Regions from separate parts of the Homo sapiens genome. Here region 2 is linked to region 1. Evidence: fine-mapped expression QTL. Tissue or cell type: whole blood. Region 1 holds a variant in brackets; the other region holds the start of a gene. All regions are shown on one strand. Distances are from middle to middle.

Evidence for each region. PIP is the estimated chance that this variant, and not a neighbour inherited with it, causes the effect.
Region 2: SIKE1 starts here. The variant in region 1 is the best candidate, but not a certain one, in a credible set for the expression of SIKE1 in whole blood (INTERVAL, PIP 0.67).

Annotation. Positions count from the first base shown.
Region 1 is chr1:114,801,678-114,812,680 of GRCh38, reverse strand. No RefSeq gene overlaps it. Among named protein-coding and RNA genes, the nearest start is that of SIKE1, 26 kb to the right of the region's middle. The variant C/A (reference allele first, on the strand shown) is at 6,427.
Region 2 is chr1:114,775,733-114,786,735 of GRCh38, reverse strand. It overlaps SIKE1 (suppressor of IKBKE 1), which reads left to right and starts at 6,051. Exons shown (of 5, transcript NM_025073.3): 1 at 6,051-6,287; 2 at 6,521-6,626; 3 at 7,452-7,594; 4 at 10,277-10,390. The coding sequence starts at 6,129. RefSeq lists enhancers at 5,669-5,788, 6,029-6,268, 5,733-6,298, 6,299-6,865.

The DNA of each region.
Region 1 (11,003 bases):
CCTCTAGATCCACAAGAAACGTTTTTCTACAATTGATCTTCCTGATAATATGCTTATATTCATAAAAGTCTTTCTCCTACTTTCCAAAATAAATGCATACCTCTCATCCAACCCAAACCTTAACATGCTACTTTCCCCTAGGTTATGCCTCCAGAGTATCAGACAAGAGCATACCTGAAAATACTGGTTTGGAAGAAATCTCCCTTAACAATGAACCAAAGCACCTAATCCATAGGGCTTTCTATCTTTTTTATAAGGCTTGGCATTAGAGATTGGGCATTTTGGTCCACATTGCACATGAATTCAGAACAGATAAAGCAAGTATATTTGTCAGGATTATTCTTTTCAATATAAATGGAATATTTTGTGGGACTCCCAAATTTTTTCAGATGCACTGACTAAAATCTGTAAATACATGGTGTGCTTTATTCAATTAGGCATTAAAACCAAATTTATCAAATCATATAATTAAATGTTTATTCCAGTTAGTCAATTCTCATCTTATAAAATGTTTATTTTCTACTTAATATTAACAAAAATTAAAATTATTTAAATGTTTGCTGAAAAATCATTGAGGACAACTTAAAAATTATCAATAGATGTCAGGTACAGTGGCTAATGCCTGTAATCCCAGCACTTTGGGAGGCTGGGGTAGAAGGTTCACTTGAGGTCAGCAGTTCAAGAACAGGCTGGTCAACATAGTGAGATCTAGTCTCTACAAGAAAATTTTAAAAATTAGCCAGACATGGTGGCATATGTCTATACTCTCAACTACTCAGAAAGTTGAGGAGGGAGGATCACTTGAGCCCAGGAGGTTGAGGCTGCAATGAGCTATAATCACACCACTGCACTCCAGCCTGGGCAACACAGCGAGGCCCTTTCTAAAAAAACTATATACACATACACACACACACACACACACACACACACACACACGTATATATACATATATATACACATATATATACATATATACACATATATATACATATATACACATATATACATATATATACACATATATACACATATATATGTAGATATGTATTTTTTCAAGATTCTTGTAGAGAGTACACAAATACAAATGTGTAAGGAAGCGGTCATGCTCATCACTGAGTGTGAACAGTGACAGTAGTTTTATTTGACAAGCACTATTATTTAAAGTTTGTTTAATCTAAATGTCTTCAGGAAATGGGGATAGGGAGGAGCATGCTTTCTTGAATTCATCTTCACCACAGAGCCTGCCACTCCCTATTATTAGCACTTAGCTCAATAAACTTATTTATAATACCTGTATGCACCCCACCCCTCACCTTGGTCCTTTGAGTTTACAATTCCCATAAGGGAATAGTGTGCCTTTGTAATAATACAGGAAGGTAATTGTTGAGAGACAATTCTCCAAGTGTCTTACACATTTCTGCACTTACTTCCCTTTATTCATACTACCTTTTCAAAGATGTTTGAACAGCAAACAGCCCTCAAAGATGACATAGTGTCTCCCTCCATACCAAAAGGGAGACATGCTCACTAGCCTTAGGAAAAAGATTCAGGTTTCCTAAGCTCTGGATTTCTCTCCTGTCACAAACCCACTACATGTGCTTGTGTCACCTAGCCCCACTTTACATCATCCTCTGGTAATTATGGATTGGGGAACCAGTGCGAAAGTGCTGATACTCTGGCTATTGCTACTGTAGAGGGTGTAAACCAAAAGTATCTAAGATGGGTCTCAATCAATTTAGGAAGTTTATTTTGCCAAGGTTAAGGACACACCCATGACAGCCTCAGGAGATCCTAACGACATGTGCCCAAGATGGTCAGGGTACAGCTTGGTTTTATATTTTTTAGAAATGCATGAGACATCAATCAATACATGTAAGATGTACATTGGTTTGGTCCAGAAAGGTGGAACAACTAGAAGCAGGGGCTTCCAGGTCACGGGTAGATTTAAAGATTTTCTGATTGGTTGAAAGAGTTATTATCAATAGAAAGGAATGCCTGGGTTATGCTAAGGGGTTCTGAAAACCAAGGTTTATCATGCAGATGAGGCATCCAGATAGCAGGCTTCAAAGAGAATAAGCTGTAAATGTTTCTTATCAAACTTAAAGAGTGTGTTCTATCAGTAATTTCAAAAGGGAAAGGGGTATAATGAGGCATGTCTGGCTCCCCGTTACAATCATGGCCTGAACTAGTTTTTCAGGTTAACTTTGGAATACCCTTGCTAAGAGGAGGGTCCATTCAGATGGTGGGGGGCTTAGAATTTTATTTTTGGTTTACAAGAGTAATACATTTCCCTTAGTCTCTGCTTCAAGAGTTTCAAATATGGTTCCCTCTAATCTTTTTAAGTGGTCTTTGTCCAGCCTCATGCAGTTTTCTCACCTGCTTGTGCTCAAGCAAGTACCCATATATGAGTGTCTCCTTACAGTTTGTTGTCTAAGTATCTCCCTTGCCTCATCCTAAACCCAGCTCCGTCCATATCTCCAGAGCTCACTCTCTCTCTCTCACTCATTCTTGCTTTCTGTCTTGGTCTCACTGAAGCTTTTTCCTCTCTGGTACTCTGACTTGTGAACTCTGGGATGCCTGGGCCTCCCTCAGACCCCCAGTTTCTTCTCAACTCAGGGAGACCACTAGGCTCTGCCTGTGTAGCTCCTCTCCATGCCGTGCCCGGAATCTCTCTCTAGGTTGTCAATTGGGCAATCACAGGCCTCACCTTGTTTGTTTCCCCTCTCAGGATCACTTTCCAGTGCTACCTGATACACACTGTCTTGAAAATCATTGTTGCACATATATTTTGTGCAATTTTTTAGTTGGTTCAAAACAATTAAGCAGGCAGGAGGATAAATCAAGTCCTGGTTACCCCATTTTGGCTGAAGGTTGGAAGCAGAGGTCTTATGTTTTGATGGCATGTTTTGCTGTCCTTTTTTCTCTCTCTCACTCTCTCTCTTTTTCTGAGACAGGGTCTCACTCTGTCACCTAGGCTGGAGTGCAGTGGCAAGATCATAGCTCTGCAGTAGCAAACTCCTAGACTCAAGTGATCCTCCCTTCTCAGTCTCCTGAGTAGCTGGGACTACAGGTACTCACCACTGCACCTGGCTTACTGTCCATTTTAAGGCACAAAAGATGTTTAGTGGATGTTGGTACTTGGGCTGTCCAAAGCATAAGGCTCTAACAGTCTCAGACAGATGAACTGCCTTTAAGAGGTGCGGTTGCTACATGGCACTTTGGGCAGAGACTTCCCAGGAATCTGGACGGATACCTGTACAGAGTAAGGTGATATCTGTGGTAATGCCTGAAGAGTATCAGAGCAGGACTCATGCTTCCAGTACTATGGTCAGTTTTTCTACTTCTGCCTCACCATAGGATTGTTTTCATTGAGGTTTTTTTTTTTTTTTTTTTTTTGAGACAGAGTCTCATTCCGTTGATGAGGCTGGAATGCAGCAGCACGATCTCAGCTCACTGCAAACTCTGCCTCCTGGGTTCAAGTGATTCTCATGACTCAGCCTCCTGAGTAGCTGGGACTACAGGCATGCACCACCATGCCCAGCTAATTTTTGTATTTTTAGTAGAGACAGGGTTTTGGCATGTTGGCCAGGCTGGTCTTGAACTCCTGACCTCAAGTGATCTGCCCACCTCGGCCTCCTAAAGTGCCAGGATTACAGGCATGAGCCACTGTGCCCGACTGAGTCATTTCCTTTTTTTTTTTGAGATGGAGGCTCGCTCTGTCACCCAGACTAGAGTGCAGTGGTGTGATCTCAGCTCACTGCAACCTCCACCTCCAGGGTTCTATCGATTGTCCTGCCTCAGCCTCCCGAGTCACTGACACTACAGGCATGCAACACCATGCCTGGGTAATTTTTGTAGTTTTCATAGAGACAGGGTTTCACCATGTTGGTCAGGCTGGTCTTGAACTCCTGACCGTAGATGATCCACCCTGCCTCAGCCTCCCAAAGTGCTGAGATTACAGGCATGAGCCACTGCACCCAGCCATCATTTCTTAATAAACTGACACGTTCCACAGCTTAATTTTCTGTACTGTTTAATTTTGCAATCATCCCAAACAGACTGGTACAATCTATTTATGGTCCAGGCACTATAATTGTTTTTTTCTACATATTGCCTCTTTAGTTTTCACAAGCACCACATTACACAGGTACTGTGTTATTCTCATTTTACAGACGAGGAAACTGAGGCTCAGAAAAGTTAAATGACTTTTCCATCATCACATAGCTGGTAGGTGTGTTTACAATTAAAATGTATACACTTCTAACCTCATGTAATGGTTCAAGAAGAAATAAATTTACACGGGAGATAAACTGGACTATTCTTCTCAAAACACTGATCACAATATGTATGGCCATATGACCACAGGAAAGAAAGGGGCCTAACATGGAAATCATAATCCTCATGTTCTAGGAGTAACCTGTTGGGACTTCTTGACTTGTCCTTGAACATGGCCCATCTCATACAAGAGACCATCGAAAGAACTGGCAGAGTGAGTGCTACCAGGGGCAGAACAATGGCATAAATGTAAGACTAGCATTTAGGTCTCATCTACTGGGACATGCAACCATCCGTCAGGGAGAAGACCATGAAAATGGGCAAAAAGGAGTAGCTAGAGACAGAATTCCATGTGTATCTTGCAAATCCCAAAAGGCCAAGGAACTGCCCCATTAATTTTTAGCTCGATAAACCAAGTCAAGTTTCATAAAGGTATTCAAAACTACTAACTGAGTTAGAGGGGTTTAAACCTAGAATGAATCTCTGTTCCATGAGAGTGATAGAGTTTCAGAGGATACTTGCTTATCCAAGATATGCTAGAAAAAGCATTTCTTCAATAACTAAACATAGGAAGATAAAAGATCTTTAGACTCTGTGAAGAAATTCTCTGAGAGAGATCGCACTGAAGTCCCAAGGAAACACAAACATAAATAATCTCAGTAAATGGCTCAGTTGTGTTGTCTACAGCTTAAGCATACATTGTATTTCTTTCTCCTAGATAATTCAGAATTTTTTTTTCTTTTTTGAGACAGAGTCTTGCTCTATCACCCAGCCTGGAGTGATCACAGCTAACTGCAGCCCTGACCTCCAGGGCTCAAGCAATCCTCATCTCAGCCTCTCGAGTAGCTGGGGACGACAGGTGTGTGCCACCACGCCCAGCTTTTTTTTTTTCCCCTTAGAGATAGGGGTCTTCCTACCTTGCCCAGACTGGTCTCAAACTCCTAGTCTCAAGTGATCCCCGCACTTAGCCTCCCAAAGTGTTAGGATTACTGGCGTGTGCCACTACACCTGGCCTAAAATAATTGTTTAACAATTGAATTGAATTTCCACTACTCTTCCATCGATTATATTATATATTATTCCTTGAGTGAATTTTAAATGGCTAAGAAAATCTGATTAAATATTCCATATGTCAATGGTCGTTTAAATTTCAATGAATATACTAAACAACAATAATGTTGAATGAAATTAGTAATACTTTAAACTTTTAATAAAACTGTGTAAATTAATTACTTAAATGGTTAATGTTCTGAAAGTAAAGCTTAATGGGACATTTTTAAAAAGTAAATACCAGGGGAATCTTCTGGCAGGAAATCAAGAATAAAATCAATTCAAAGAAGTTCTGTTATTTTAATATGAGTAATATTACTGATAAGATGGCATAACAGCAGATTTTTATCATATAGTTTTTAAGGAATATCTGAACTGAAAATTTGAATCTCTTTTGGTCAAGGATGCCTTCTCTTTTTTAAATTCATACTAATTTAATAGTTGATTAGTATGAGTGAACTTACGATTATCACATTTGAAGAACATTTTAGAAAGTTTTAAAACACACCAATACCCTTTACTAGTAGTCATTTCATAAAATATTGTGAAGAATAAATGAGCAAATACCTGTAAATGCTTATCAGATGCCTAAGACATATAAAGTGTTCAATAAATGTTCATTATTGTTGTGATTGTTATTATTTAAGACATTTTTGTGCTTTTTGGTTGGAGATAGTAGGTTTAAGTTTTGTTACTACTTACTACTTTCATCTTATTTAACAAAGACGTGTCATCAAATCAAATTCACCAAAGAATCCCTATAGCACATTTTATGTTTTATTTTATTTCCTTATTTTACAGAGAGAGTCTTGCTGTGTCACCCAGGTAAGTGTGCAGTGGTGCAATCATAGCTCACTGCAACCTGGAACTCCTAGCCTCAAGCAATCCTCCTGCCTCAGCCTTCCCAGTAGCTACCACACCACCATGCCCAGTTACTCTTATGTATAGTTTTTTGCAGAGGCAGGGCCTTTGCTATATTGCCCAGGCTGGTCTCAAATTCCTGGCCTCAAGCAATTCTTCTGCCTTGGCTTACAGAGGCATATTGGGATTACAGGCATGAGCCACTGCACCTCGCCTTACGGCATGTTTTACAGGGAAAAA[C/A]AATGTCTAGTGATACTTGAAAAATGTTCACATTGTTTAGAAATTACATTATAATTATAAACCTTTATTAAAAACATATGCAACCTTGCAAATGGAAAAGCAGAAGCCTTGGCATCAGTCCAGTAGAGAAATTTGACTATACCACCACTATGAACCCATCCAGGAGTAACAAAGCTAACGTATAACCTTGCCAGTACTTCTCACACATACACAAACCACTCACAAATTTTTAAAAAGAAACGAAAAAAAATAAAGTAAGCATGCTTATCTAACCCAACTTTCCAATTTATTAAAAATTGAAGCCACTCTCTTCCTGGGAATTGTGGTTTATATTGTGTACAGAATTTTAAGATTTAGTGTATCTCTGGCTTTTGCCTTCACTCTCTCTTCAAGTCACCTATCTTCCACACTCATATTTATGGATGTTCTAAGGAATGCATCACATGTGACAACAAAAATGACTGGTCAAAAATTATCTGGAATTCTTGTTGTTTAGCCTCGTCTATCTCACTAAAATAGTGATCTCTACTCGCTACCTTCTACTGCATGGGACTGCCTTTGTTAAGCACCAGTGCCACATCAGGTGGATATCACCCTATCCACGAAATACCATATCCCTAGGTCCACTGCCACCTTCTTTGAGTGGGTACCATGACTAATTCCCAAAGGTCTCACTCTCTTCCACCTCTAGTACCACAATCTGCCTTTAAGAAGCTGAGCCATGCTACAGAAAATGTAAAATCATAGGGATTGTGCTATGACAAAAGTATAATTTCTAATTTTAGTTAGACCCTTAACACCCCTCATCAATCTTTAACCATTGTTACCTCTCCTTCTATAGCAGATTGCAAAAATGGCCATGCATTGCTCCCCCTCCCCCCTCCCCCTCCCCCTCCCTCTCCCTCTCCCCACGGTCTCCCTCTCCCTCTCTTTCCACGGTCTCCCTCTGATGCTGAGCCGAAGCTGGACTGTACTGCTGCCATCTCGGCTCACTGCAACCTCCCTGCCTGCTTCTCCTGCATCAGCCTGCCGAGTGCCTGCGATTGCAGGTGCGCGCCGCCACGCCCGACTGGTTTTCGTATTTTTTTGGTGGAGACGGGGTTTCGCTGTGTTGGCCGGGCTGGTCTCCAGCTCCTAACCGCGAGTGATCTGCCAGCGTCCACCTCCCGAGGTGCCGGGATTGCAGACGGAGTCTGGTTCACTCAGTGCTCAATGGTGCCCAGGCTGGAGTGCAGTGGCGTGATCTCGGCTCGCTACAACCTCCACCTCCCAGCCGCCTGCCCTGGCCTCCCAAAGTGCCGAGATTGCAGCCTCTGCCCAGCCGCCACCCCGTCTGGGAAGTGAGGAGCATCTCTGCCTGGCCGCCCATCATCTGGGATGTGAGGAGCCCCTCTGCCTGGCTGCCCAGTCTGGGAAGTGAGGAGCGCCTCTTCCCGGCCGCCATCCTGTCTAGGAAGTGAGGAGCGTCTCTGCCCTGCTGCCCATCGTCTGAGATGTGGGGAGCGCCTCTGCCCCTCCGCCTCGTCTGGGATGTGAGGAGCGCCTCTGCCCGGCCGCGACCCCGTCTGGGAGGTGAGGAGCGTCTCTGCCCGGCCACCCCATCTGAGAAGTGAGGAGCCCCTCCGCCCGGCAGCCGCCCTGTCTGGGAAGTGAGGAGCGTCTCCGCCTGGCAGCCTCCCCGTCCGGGAGGTGGGGGGCAGCCCCCGCCCGGCCAGCCGCCCCTTCCGGGAGGGAGGCGGTGGGGAGGGGGGGCAGCCCTCGCCCGCCAGCCGCCCCGTCCAGGAGGGAGGCGGGGGCGGCAGCCCCCGCCCGGCCAGCCTCCCCGTCCGGGAGGTGGGGGGCGCCTCTGCCCAGCTGCCCCTTCTGGGAAGTGAGGAGCCCCTCTGCCCGGCCACCACCTCGTCTGGGAGGTGTACCCAACAGCTCATTGAGAATGGGCCATGATGACGATGGCGGTTTTGTCGAATAGAAAAGGGGGAAATGTGGGGAAAAGATAGAGAAATCAGATTGTTGCTGTGTCTGTGTAGAAAGAAGTAGACATAGGAGACTCCATTTTGTTCTGTACTAAGAAAAATTCTTCTGCCTTGGGATGCTGTTGATCTATGACCTTACCCCAACCCGGTGCTCTCTGAAACATGTGCTGTGTCCACTCAGGGTTAAATGGATTAAGGGCGGTGCAAGATGTGCTTTGTTAAACAGATGCTTGAAGGCAGCATGCTCATTAAGAGTCATCACCACTCCCTAATCTCAAGTACCCAGGGACACAAACACTGCGGAAGGCCGCAGGGTCCTCTGCCTAGGAAAACCAGAGACCTTTGTTCACTTGTTTATCTGCTGACCTTCCCTCCACTATTGTCCTATGACCCTGCCAAATCCCCCTCTGCAAGAAACACCCAAGAATGATCAATTAAAAAAAATAAAAAAAGACCTTGGGAAATACAATTCTAAGTCTTAACATTTTGCATATGTTGTTAAATGTCCACGATTCATAGCAAATGAGATCTATTTACTGGGAGTAATCTTCCCGATATGGCCATCTAAACTTGGTTCTCCATCAGATATATTCTTGGGAAATTACAATTGTTTTTTCCAACAAGTAGACACTTGTTTACCTTCTAGGTTTGTGGAAGGCATGAAGTCCTTTAATAGTACCATTTTTTTTTTCTTATTTAATATTTACTGTCATATATGTTTGCATGATTAAAAGGAGGCATTAAAAAAAAATGGCCATGCATTCTTTCCCTGCCCTAAAGAAGTGGGATTTATTTCTCCACACCATGCTTCTTAAAGTAGGGGATTTGAAATAATAATAATAATAATAAATATTTCACTACTTTTTGAATGCAGGTTGACCACAGGATTTGCTTTGGCCAATGAAACATTTTGGCATATATGAGCAAGCAGAGATTTAAAAAACAGTTGCATGTTGGAACTTAGAATGATCTCGTAATCCTGTAGCCATGTGAACAAGCCGGGGCTAGCCTGATACAGGATGAGAGACACAGGATTCAGTCACCCTCATCACCACAGTTGACAGCCAGCCTACCACCAGACAGACATGTGAGTGAATCATTCCAGGACCAACTAGACTCAGCCAACCAACAAATCACAAACCAGAATCAGATGAACCTGACCCAGACCAAAACTATCCAGCAGGTTCATGAACAAAATAAATGGTTTTTGTTTCAAGCCACTACGTTTTGGAGTAGTTTATTATGCAACAATAGATTAATGATACACCCTCTGACTCCCTTCAGTAATTATTCTAAACATTTGCATCATTCAGTGACTGCTCCTACTCTCATCCTTAGCACCTAACTTTATCTCCTTTTTTGATGGGTAAAACAGACACACTAAACTTCCCACACTTTCCTAACAGCACACTATAGCATAGTGGTAAAGAGAACTGCTTTTGAAGCCAGATTCCCTGCTCTTCTCTTGGCTCTGAGCACATAGAAGCTGTAAGACCTAGAGAAAATTACACAACTTCACTGCATCTCATGTTTCTTCTCTGTAAAAGTAGGGATAATGATAATATCTACCTCATAGAGCTGTTGCGAGAATTATAAATGAAGAGTTTAGATCATTATATTGTATACAGTGAATGCTATGTAAACTATTATTTTTATTGTGCACTGGCCAGTGATCCAGAGCTTAATGTTTTTAACAGTTTTACTTACATACCATACTTACATGTAAGTAAATACTTATATATAATATATATGTTATATATATATAAAATATATATATGTAAATAAATACTTATATATTCACATATTATGAAATTCACACATTTAAACTATATGTTTCAGACCAGACGCAGTGGCTCATGCCTGTAATCCCAGCAATTTGGGAGGCCGAAGCAAGTGGATCATCTGAGATCAGGAGTTCGAGACCAGCCTGGCTAACATGGAAATTTCATCTCTACTAAAAATACAAAAAATTAGCCAAGCATGGCAGCACGTGCCTGTAGTCCCAGCTACTTGGGAGGCTGAGCCAGGAGAATTGCTTGAACCTGGGAGGTGGAGGTTGCAGTGAGCCAAGATCACACCACTGCACTCCAGCCTGGGCAACAGAGTGAGAGGATCTCAAAATATATATATAAATAAATAAAATAAAGTACATGATAAAATATACGTTTCAGTGTTTTTTAATATATTCAGAGTTGTACAACCATCACCACTATCTAATTTTAGAGAATTTTTATCAACCCAAACACACCTTGATTTTGAGACCTGAAGTCCTAAGGTGGATCTGAGACAACTCCTTGGGAAAAGGCCAAGAATACAACAGGGAAGATCAAATATGAATGCTGGTCCGATGAACAAGAGCAGAACTGTAAACAAGAGATGAAGCCAAGAATCAGAGTCAGATGGTAATATGGTTAGATATATTTTAACTAATAGTGAAAAGCGGGAGAGGATAGGACACAAGCAGCATCAGACCGTCTACAGCTAACATTATCATGTATGCCAGACTGACTTAAAGATGTGGAATCAGGGGAAGCTCCTCACTCCCCACATTCAGGTCTACCCTGCCAAGGCTGGCAAATCAAGGGTTTGCCCCAGATCTTTGCC
Region 2 (11,003 bases), 26 kb after region 1:
ATAAAATATTGGCAAACCAAATCCAGCAGCACATCAAAAAGCTTATCCACCACAACCAAGTCAGCTTCATCCCAGGAATGCAAGGCTGGTTCAACATACACAAATCAATAAACATAATCCATCACATAAACAGAACCATGTAAAAATGACATGATTATCTCAATAGATGCAGAAAAGGCCTTTGATGAAATTCAACATCCCTTCATGCTAAAAACTCTCAATAAGCTAGGTATTGATGGAATGTATCTCAAAATAATAAGAGCTATTTATGACAAACCCATACTCAATATCGTACTGAATGGGCAAAGCTGGAAGCATTCCCCTTGAAAACCGGCACAAGACAAGGATGCCCTCTCTCACTACTCTATTCAACATAGTATTGGAAGTTCAGGCAAGGGCAATCAGGCAAAAGAAAGAATACAGGGTATTCAAATAGGAAGAGAGGAAGTCAAATTTTCTGTGTCTGCAAAAGACATGATTGTATATCTACAAAACCCTATCATCTCAGCTCAAAAACTCTTCAAGCTTATAAGCAACTTCAGCAAAGTCTCAGGATACAAAATCAATATGCAAAAATCACAAGCATTTCTATATACCAATAATAGACAAGCAGAGAGCCAAATCATGAGTGAACTCCCATTAACAATAGCTACAAAAAGAATAAAATACCTAGGAATACAACTTACAAGGGACCTGAAGGACCTCTTCAAGGAGAACTACAAACCACTGCTCAAGGAAATAAGGGAGGACACAAACAAATAGGAAAAAAAAATTCCATGCTCATGGATAGGAAGAATTGGTATCATGAAAATGGCCATACTATCCAAAGTAATTTATAGATTCACTGCTATTCCCATCAAGCTACCATTGACTTTCTTCACAGAACTAGAAAAAACTACTTTAGATTTCATATGGAACCAAAAAAGAGCCCATATAGCCAAGACAATCCTAAGCAAAAGAACAAAGCTGGAGGCATCACACTACCTGATTTCAAACTATACTACAAGGCTACAGTAACCAAAACAGCATGGTACTGATAGCAACACAGATATATAGACCAATGGAACAGAACAGAGGCCTCAGAAATAACACCACACATCTACAACCATCTGATCTTCGGCAAACCTGACAAAAACAAGCAATGGGGAAAGGATTCCCTACTTAATAAATGGTGATGGGAAAACTGGCTAGCCATATGCAGAAAACAGAAACTGGGCCCCTTCCTTATGCCTTAAACAAAAATTAACTCAAGGTGGATTAAAGACTTAAACATAAAACCTAAAACCATAAAAACCCTAGAAGAAAACCTAAGTAATATCATTCAGGACATAGGCATGGGCAAAGACTTCAAGTCTAAAACACCAAAAGCAATTTCAGCCGCAGCCAAAATTGACAAATGGGATCTAATTAAACTAAGAGCTTCTGCTCAGCAAAAGAAACTATCGTCAGTGTGAACAGGCAACCTACAGAATGGGAGAAAATTTTTGCAATCTATCCGTCTGACAAAGGGCTAAACTCCAGAATCTAAAAGGAACTTAAACAAATTTACAAGAAAAAAAAAACCCAATCAAAAAGTGGCAAAGGATATGAACAGACACTTCTCAAAAGAAGACATTTATACCTGGTGTGGTGGCTTACGCCTGTAATCCCAGCACTTTGGGAGGCTGAGGCGGACGGATCATGAGGTCAGGAGATCAAGACCATCCTGGCTAACACTGTGAAAGCTCATCTCTACTAAAAATACAAAAAAAAAAAAAAATTAGCCAGGCGTGGTTGTGAGCGCCTGCAGTCCCAGCTACTCTGGAGGCTGAGGGAGGAGAATGGCGTGAACCCGGGAGGCGGAGCTTGCAGTGAGCCGAGATCGTACCACTGCTCTCCAGCCTGGGGGACAGTGCAAGACTCTCTCTCAAAAAAAAAAAAAGAAGACATTTATGGGGCCAACAAACATATAAAAAAAACCTCATCATTACTGGTCATTAGAGAAATGCAAATCAAAACCACAATCAGATACCATTTTATGCCAGTTAGAATGGCAATCATTAAAAACTCAGGAAACAACAGATGCTGGTGAGGATGTGAAGAAATAGGAACGCTTTTACACTGTTGGTGGGAGTGTAAATTAGTTCAACCATTGTGGAAGACAGTATGGCGATTCCTCAAGGATCTAGAACCAGAAATTCCATCTGACCCAGCAATCCCATTACTGGGTATATACCAAAAGGATTATAAATCATTCCAAAGGATTATAAATCATGCACACGTATGTTTATTGCAGCACTATTTACAATAGCAAAAATTTGGAACCAACCCAAATGCCCATCAACGATAGACTGGATAAAGAAAATGTGGCATATATACACTATGGAATACTATGGAGCCATAAAAAAGAATGAGTTCAGCCGGGCACAGTGGCTCACGCCTATAATCCTAGGACTTTGGGAGGCTGAGGCGGGCAGATCACCTGAGGTTGGGAGTTTGAGACAAGCCTGACTAACATGGAGACACCCCATCTCTACTAAAAATATAAAATTAGCCAGGCTTGGTGGCACATGCCTGTAATCCCAAATACTTGGGAGGCTGAGGCAGGAGAATCGCTTGAACCTAGGAGACAGTGGTTGCAGTGTGCCGAGATCGCACCATTGCACTCCAGCCTGGACAACAAGAGTGAAACTCTGTCTCAAAAAGAAAAAAAAAAAAAAAAGAATGAGTTCATGTCCTTTGCAGGGACATGGATGAACCTGGAAACCATCACCCTCAGCAAACTAACACAGGAACAGAAAACCAAACACCAAATGTTCTCACTCATAAGTGGGAGTTGAACGATAAGAACGCATGGACAAAGGGAGGGGAACATCTCACACCCGGGCCTGTTGGGGGGTGGGGGGCAGGGGGAGGGAGAGCATTAGGACAAATACCTAATGCATGTGGGGCTTAAAACCTAGATGATGGGTTGATAGGTACAGCAAACCACCATGGCACATGTATACCTATGTAACAAACCTACATGTTCTGCACATGTATCCCAGAACTTAAAGTAAAATAAAAATAAAAATAATGAATGATTCCCTAGGTTTAAATAAGGTTTTCCTAAGGTGTTGGTTTACTCTTAATGAAATTAAAGGAAATTTTGCTTTTTAATTCTATCACCTATTTTTTTTTAAAACTTCTCAGATTCATATCTCAGAAGTTCAGCTTTTGTTGTGTCTGGCTGTTTTCAGTTTTTTCCTCCCTTTGAAAAGGACACTCTCCTTCAACTTTTTCCATCAGCTCCTCTAATTCTTTTTCCTCTGATTCTAACTGTTGGGGCCTGATGCTGAAATGTTTTATCTTAGAAGTCTATAAAAGCAGTGTTTTCCTCCAATATAACTTGATTCTGTACTCCCGGCTTTTCTTGATATGTGATTTTCGTTGTAATCAGGAAACTTCTCACGCAATTGCTCAGAGAGATGTATTCCCTTGCTATACTCATAAGCATGAATACACTCTTCTTGTGTCTGATTAAATTCAAGCACTTTTTTCAAGTATGACTTTCAGGTTACCTACATGGTCTTCCCATAAGGAGAAGCAGTCACACAGCAGAAGGGGTTTTTTGCCTGTGTAGTAACTTGCTTAAGAAACAAGATTTTAATGTTTTATCAAATAATTCCCATGCTCTCTTTAATGGGTTTTTAATTGCCTAGAAAAACTGAGATTTAAAAGGGTTCAGGTTTTTATGTCCTGGTAACCTTCTCAATTGCCTTTAAAGTCTTTAATTATCAGTTTGGTTAAATGAGTAACTATTATTTTTACAATGAATATTATCTTGTTTTGATCAAATGTTTTGAGGCTTTTAAAATCTTTGACCAATGTCCTCAAAATCAAAATCGTAAATTAAGTCTCTGACTTATTGCTGGGGTTTATCGAAGCTATAAAAATTAATCACTGCAAGGTTGTAAAATATTTTTACAGCTTCCAGTCAGGTCATAGACTCCGGTATCACACCTCCAGCTCCTTGAAAAGGTCCTTATCAGGTGATATTAACTAATCCTTGTGCTTTTAAGTTATAGGGACTTACACATATCTCATCCAAAGAAGGCATCAACTCCTGCCAGTATCTGACACTAAACTGCAATTAACCAAAGCCTCATCGTTAGACTCAGGCAAAGGCGACAAAGTAAACTGCTTTCATGAGACACAGGGACAGTCTTGTGTTCAAAAATATTAAGATTCATTTAACAATTCTGCCTCTATCTGAATTAATATAATTTATTCTGTGCCTTGATACTAAATAATTTAAGTGTTTAGCTACCTATGAACTTCTTTTCCTGTTATTCTCAAAACTAGGCAGGGTTTATGACCTTTGTGTTTGAAATGTTGTTAATTCTTTCTGTTTTGTTTTACCTACAAAAGTTGAAACTCTTCAATCCCGCCATGCCTAGAGACTATAACGTAATGTTGTAAGGGCCAGTATTGAGAGCTAAAATTAGTTCAGACCCTACAAATCAAGGATGACACAGATGCCAAAACAGCTAAACAAAATGCTTGCATTTTGTATAGCTAATTGCAACAAGCCAAGATTACAGCAGCTCAATGCATAGAATTTATAGATAAGTCAATTTTGTAACCCTTGCCTTTTGGTTTTTGCCTCTTAACATTGCTTAAGAGGGGTTTTAAGGTTAATGAGTGCCTGCCCACCTCCTTCCCATCTGACCTAGAACGTTTAATTGGCTGTAACTCTTTTGACTCTAAGTCAGTTGGCCGCAGGAGGGACATGATGGACTCAGGGCAGGTAGCACACCACCCTGGCATTGATATGGGACAAAATTAAAGTTTGGACACTGATACTGTCTCTGGGATACCTTGACCAAAAAAAAAAAAAAAGTGGAATGCTGTTTTGAAGGCATGAGCCTAGCCATTCCCCATCTGCGAGCATTTGATTAGTAAAGCTTTCACCACAGGTCACTTCTCATGTTTTTGGCCTCTAGGCAGCAAGCAGCCAGACGTGAGCCAGTTGCAATAGCAGCATTATTGACAATAGCAAAAGGTGGAAGCAACCCAACTGTCCATCCACGGATGAATGGATAAACAAAACGTGGTATATATATATTATTCAGCCTTAAAAAGGAAGGAAATTCTAACATATGCTACTATATGGATGAAACTCGTGGACATTACACTAAGTGAAATAAGGCAGTTATATAAATACAAATGCTGTATGATTTCACTCATGTCAGGTACCCAGAATAGTCAGATTTGTAGAGACACAAAGTAGAATGGTGGCTGCCAGGAGCTGGGGATAAGGAAGAATGAGGAATTATTGTTTAATGAGTACAGAACTTCAGTACTGCAAGATGAAAGAGTTCTAGAGATGGATGCTGATGGTGGCTGTATAACAATATGAATGTACAACTGAACTGTACACTTATAAATGGCTGAGATATTAAATTTTATGTGTATTTTGCCACAATTTAAAAAAAATTAAATGAAAGTAGGCCAGGCGCGGGGGCTCACACCTGTAATCCCAGCACTTTGGGAGGCCGAGGCGGGCGGATCACTTGAGGTCAGGAGTTCGAAACCGGCCTGGCCAACATGTGAAACCCCGTTTCTACTAAAAATAGAAAAATCAGCCGGCGTGGTGGCGCATGCCTGTAATCCCAGCTACTCGAGAGGCTGAGGCAGGAGAATCGCTTGAACCCTGGAGGCAGAGGTTGCAATGAGCCAAGATCGCGCCACTGCACTCCAGCCTGGACAAGAGCAAGATTCCGTCTCAAAAAAGAAAAAAATAATGAAAATAAAAAGAAACTAACTGTGACTGAAGAACAACCCACATCAATGAAAACCAGTAGGGAAAGGAGACCTTCCCACTGCCCAGCTAATCATAGCCTGACCACCAGGCTGTGGTAACTGGAAACCAACGGCGTGGCAAGTGTAGGTCTGGGGCTCCGCGCAAGGAAGGACTGCAAGGAAGCCGCAGGTTAAAGCGGGTCAACCCGCAAAATAGGCTGCCACTGCGCAGGCGCCCATTGCGCCTACCAAGACACCTTGTAAACGTGCCCGGAAATGACGCCTGTAATGCTGAGACAGACTCCCAGAAGATCTGAGCGAGTCGCGTAGCTGAGCCCGGCAGGGGCTGGGGTGGTGCTGCTGCTATGAGCTGCACCATCGAGAAGATCCTGACAGACGCCAAGACGCTGCTGGAGAGGCTACGGGAGCACGATGCGGCCGCCGAGTCGCTGGTGGATCAGTCGGCGGCGCTGCACCGGCGGGTAGCAGCTATGCGGGAGGCGGGGACAGCGCTTCCGGACCAGGTCAGGCAGAGGGTAGGAGTCCAGTGCTCTCGGATTCTGGGCACTGAAGGGTGGAGAGCGAGGTAAAGTGGGAACTCGGCCTGGAATTTATTCCCGGTCTCAGAGGGCGGCGGTGAGACCATTTTCCTGGGTCGGGGCTGAGAATCCTGCCCTGGAGCCCTAACTTCTGCCTCTTCAGTTGCATCTGCCGCTGTTCTCTTTAAGGCATGCTTAGTCTGTCTCTATTTGTCCAGTATCAAGAGGATGCATCCGATATGAAGGACATGTCCAAATACAAACCTCACATTCTGCTGTCCCAAGAGAACACACAGATTAGAGACTTGCAACAGGAAAACAGAGGTTAGTCAGGCCTTTTCATATCTGGTAATAGTTTAAAGTTATTGCAAAATTGCCCTAAACATTTACAAAAGTGTACATATATTTCCAGGTCAGTACTTTTAGTAGGAGAGTCCTCCTGATCTGGCCCAGTAACAATAAAGTTTGTTAGATTACCCTTTTCAAGGTCATCTGACTAATATTGCAGCAGCTTACCAAAGAGGTGCTGTGTAGAGTTGGTATTATTGCATGGTTTATTTTTAAGCATCCTCAGATGTGTAACAAAAGAGTTCATAGCCTCATGGACTTAAAATTTAATGTTTAAGTATTAATATAAACACTGAAGGTAAGATTTAAGGTTTTGTTTATGTTCTTGTTTGTGCAAGGTGAAGCAGCAGAATTTTATTCTAAGGGTATATATTCTTAGGCTTGATTAGTACATTATTAATGATTGTGGTATTAATAGTTGTTTACCAGAGGGGTTTCACATATATCATTCTACTGTATTCTCATATCTTCATTTTTATCTACCACAATGCAGTTAAGAAATAGGCTCAGAAGAAGCTAAATGATTTACTTATGAGTATTAACCAAGCAAGTTACAGAACTGAACTCAAACACATGTCTTCTGATGATACATCCATTGTTGTTTCTGCAAGACTTTGCTTCTCTGCCTAGAAAGTTACCTTTCACATAGACTTTAACTGTTCAGTTTTGCGGACTTAAACATTGATTTACAACTTTAGATTCATATTATCTATATAGTGTTACAAAATTCCAACTGTTAAGACTTTGGATTTGGGAACTGTCTCTCAGACATCACTGCCAAGTTCTTTTATTTTTTGACAGAGCTATGGATTTCCTTGGAGGAACACCAGGATGCTTTGGAACTTATCATGAGCAAATATCGGAAACAGATGTTACAGTTAATGGTTGCTAAAAAAGCGGTGGATGCTGAACCAGTCCTGAAAGCTCACCAGTCTCACTCTGCAGTAAGAAACTTTGAATAAATTCGAAATGAACCAAATTGAAATCTTGAGATTGTTTTAGATTGTGTGCTTGTTTTTTTGCTTTGTGAGATAGGGTCTGGCTCTTGTCGACCAGGCCGTGGTGTAATGGCACGATCTCGGCTCACTGCAACCTCTGCCTCCTGGGCTCAAGCCATCGTCTCACCTCTGCCTCCGGAGCAGCTGGGACTACAGGTGCACACCACCACGCCCTGTTAATTTTTGTGGGGTTGTTTGTTTGTTTGTTTGTTTGTTTGTTTTTTGGTAGAGATGACATTTCGCCATGTTGCCCAGGCTGGTCTGAAACTCCTGGGCTCAAGCGATCCACCCACGTTAGCCTTCCAAAGTGCTGGGATTATAGGCATGAACCACTGCGCCTGGCCATGTGTGCTTGTTTTTGAAGAAAAGTAAGCTCATTTTCCTTTCATGTTTATCACATTTGTTGTTTATTTTGCCATGGCTTTGTAAAGATATGAATAGAAAGAAGGAGGATAGGGGCTGCTCAGATCCTTTTATTTGAGTGGGACTAAGGTTCCCCCTCCCTCACCAAGATCTCTTTTGAAAATGTTCATTAATTCTTAGCGCTCCCACCAAACATAATGCCAGTTAGTGTTGAAGCTGCCTGGTAAACACTTGGTTGGTTATTACTTATACATTTAACTTAAGCTCCTTGCTTGTAAGGCGCATGAATTCACATTTTATTCCTAACATAGTACCTGACATACAGCAGGCAGTCAGTAAACCTTTTATAAACTGAACCACATAGTATCATACTATGTTGTTAGGGGAGAGAAGTATGGTTTTTTAAAAAAACAAACATGGCATAGTTTCTGTTCTTTGCTAATTTGGGAGACTCAGTAATTGTTCTTATGTTTATAGGTGCTTCATGGTTGTCATTGTACATTCTTGTGTACTGTATCATTTAATTCTAGATGTATAGGGTTGGAGCCTACTACTTCTGTGAGATGTAGTGAAATATAAGCTTCATCTTAAATTCCATTGAATGCATTTTACTGACTTAAAAGTTTTAGGAAACAGATATTTTAAATATTTGAATGGCTTTCATCTGGAAGAGAAAAATAGATTTTCTTCTCGTATGGAGGAAAAAACTTGAACCTTGAAAGAGACAGAGTTTACTCAGATAGATAAACTTTCTAAGTGATATGTCCAAAGATGGAATAAAGCACCTTGGAATGTAGTAAGCTTCCTGCCAGTAAAAGTATTCAAATTTAAGTTAAACAGCCACTTAGAGATAGTATCCAACATCCAATGGGTAGTTAAACTACAATTGATTTTTTTTTTCCATTTCAAATCTTTTTATTGGAGTGTGGACCTACTGGGGGATTGATGCACTGGACATAGATAATTTTCAGAAATGAAAATAACATTGCTTGCATCGAATCAGATTTCACCCACAAAAATGACTAAGGCCTTACCAGAGTTGGCATTGGATGAAACCTTAGTCCTTTATGGAAAGGGAATCATGTGGCCTTCTATTTCTGAAATAGACTAAAGATTACTCATTTATTCTCTGCAATTACAGCCATCAGATCCTTTGAAATCTTGGAAGGCATGAGATGATGACATGAGTGTAACACAAATCCATATTGAAGAGCCCAGTATTTTAAAATTCCCCATGTTCACATACCAAAGGGTTACTTATGAGCTGATGCATATCACAGATAACCATATGATTATCAACTTGATGTCTGGGCAAAGAGCGAAAACAGAAAATGCATTCTACTCTTCACTTCTTGGTTTTAAATATAAGAAACATTATATATATTTTAAAAAACTGTATTCCTTAGTAGTGGTATCAATAGAACATATACAACTGGAATGAGGATCCCCTTAAGGAGGCCTTTTTTTTGTTTGTTTTTTAAATAAGTTCTAGGGTACATGTGCAAAACGTGCAGGTTTGTTAACATATGTATACATGTGCCATGATGGTGTGCTGCACCCATTAACTCGTCCTTTACATTAGGTATTCCTCCTAATGCTATCCGTCCCCACTCCCCCAACCCTATGACAGGCCCCGGTGTGTGATGTTCCCCACCCTGTGTCCAAGTGTTCTCATTGTTCAATTCCCACCTATGAGTGAGAACATGCGGTGTTTGGTTTTCTGTCTTTGTGATAGTTTGCTCAGAATGATGGTTTCCAGCTTCATCCATGTCCCTACAAAGGACATGAACTCATCCTTTTTTATGGCTGCATAGTATTCCATGGTATATATGTGCCACATTTTCTTAATCCAGTCTATCATTGATGGACATTTGGGTTGGTTCCAAGTCTTTGCTATTGTGAATAGTGCCGCAATAAACATGTGTGCATGTGTCTTTATAGTAGCATGATTTACAATCCTTTGGGTATATACCCAGTAATGGGATTGCTGGGTCAAATGGTATTTCTAGTTCTAGATCCTTGAGGAATCACCACACTGTCTTCCACAATTGATTTTTTGAAAGAAAAAAAAAAAAATATCCGTGAATACAAGGTCACTTTACTATGGCTTCATGTCTGAGGACTAAAATTGTAGGGAAACTCCATTGTAACTTCTGTATCATAGATTAAATGAACTTTTAAAAATCGTAATGCACATGCTTTTACGTTCTTTATATCTACAGAACAGGTGATTTTTCCACCTTTGTTTCCTTAATATCTTCACAGGAAATTGAGAGTCAGATTGACAGAATCTGTGAAATGGGAGAAGTGATGAGGAAAGCAGTTCAGGTGGATGATGACCAGTTTTGTAAGATTCAGGAAAAATTAGCCCAATTAGAGGTAAGATTGTAGCTAATTTAGGTTCACAGTATTTCATAGTTTTCCGAGTCTGGAAGATATGCCATCACTATCCCATCACTGTAATATATTGATGTTTTCTGTGTGCTCATGATTTAAAATTAAAACTCCTCCTTCATACCCTTTTATACCCTTTTGAAGAAAGGAAATATAGTAAACAGCAATCAATGGAAATACCAACTATGTATTGGCAAGAACTTGAGGTATTATCATATGGGAAGGTAGAGGGAGTGGAGGGGAGAAGTTATATGTGAGATAAAATCCTTCATCTGCCATAATAAGAAGTGAAGTAGATAATGTCTAAAATTGATGATCAGGAAATAGCAGTATAAGCATATTATTTAGAATTACAGAATTAAATACCAAAAGAAATAGATAAAAGTGTTAAAAGTGGTTGCATTTGGGGTACAAAGCCAAAGAACTGCTTGTATAAGCCTTGTAGTCTTGATTTCTTAAAAGCTATGTTTATGTCATATTTTGATTAGAATAGGAATATGTTACAAAAAAAGTTCGGGGTATTAGTGTGCTCATAAAATTGTTAAGGAAAAACATTTCAACTTTGAGAGGCTGAGGTAAGTGAATTGCTTGAGCCCAA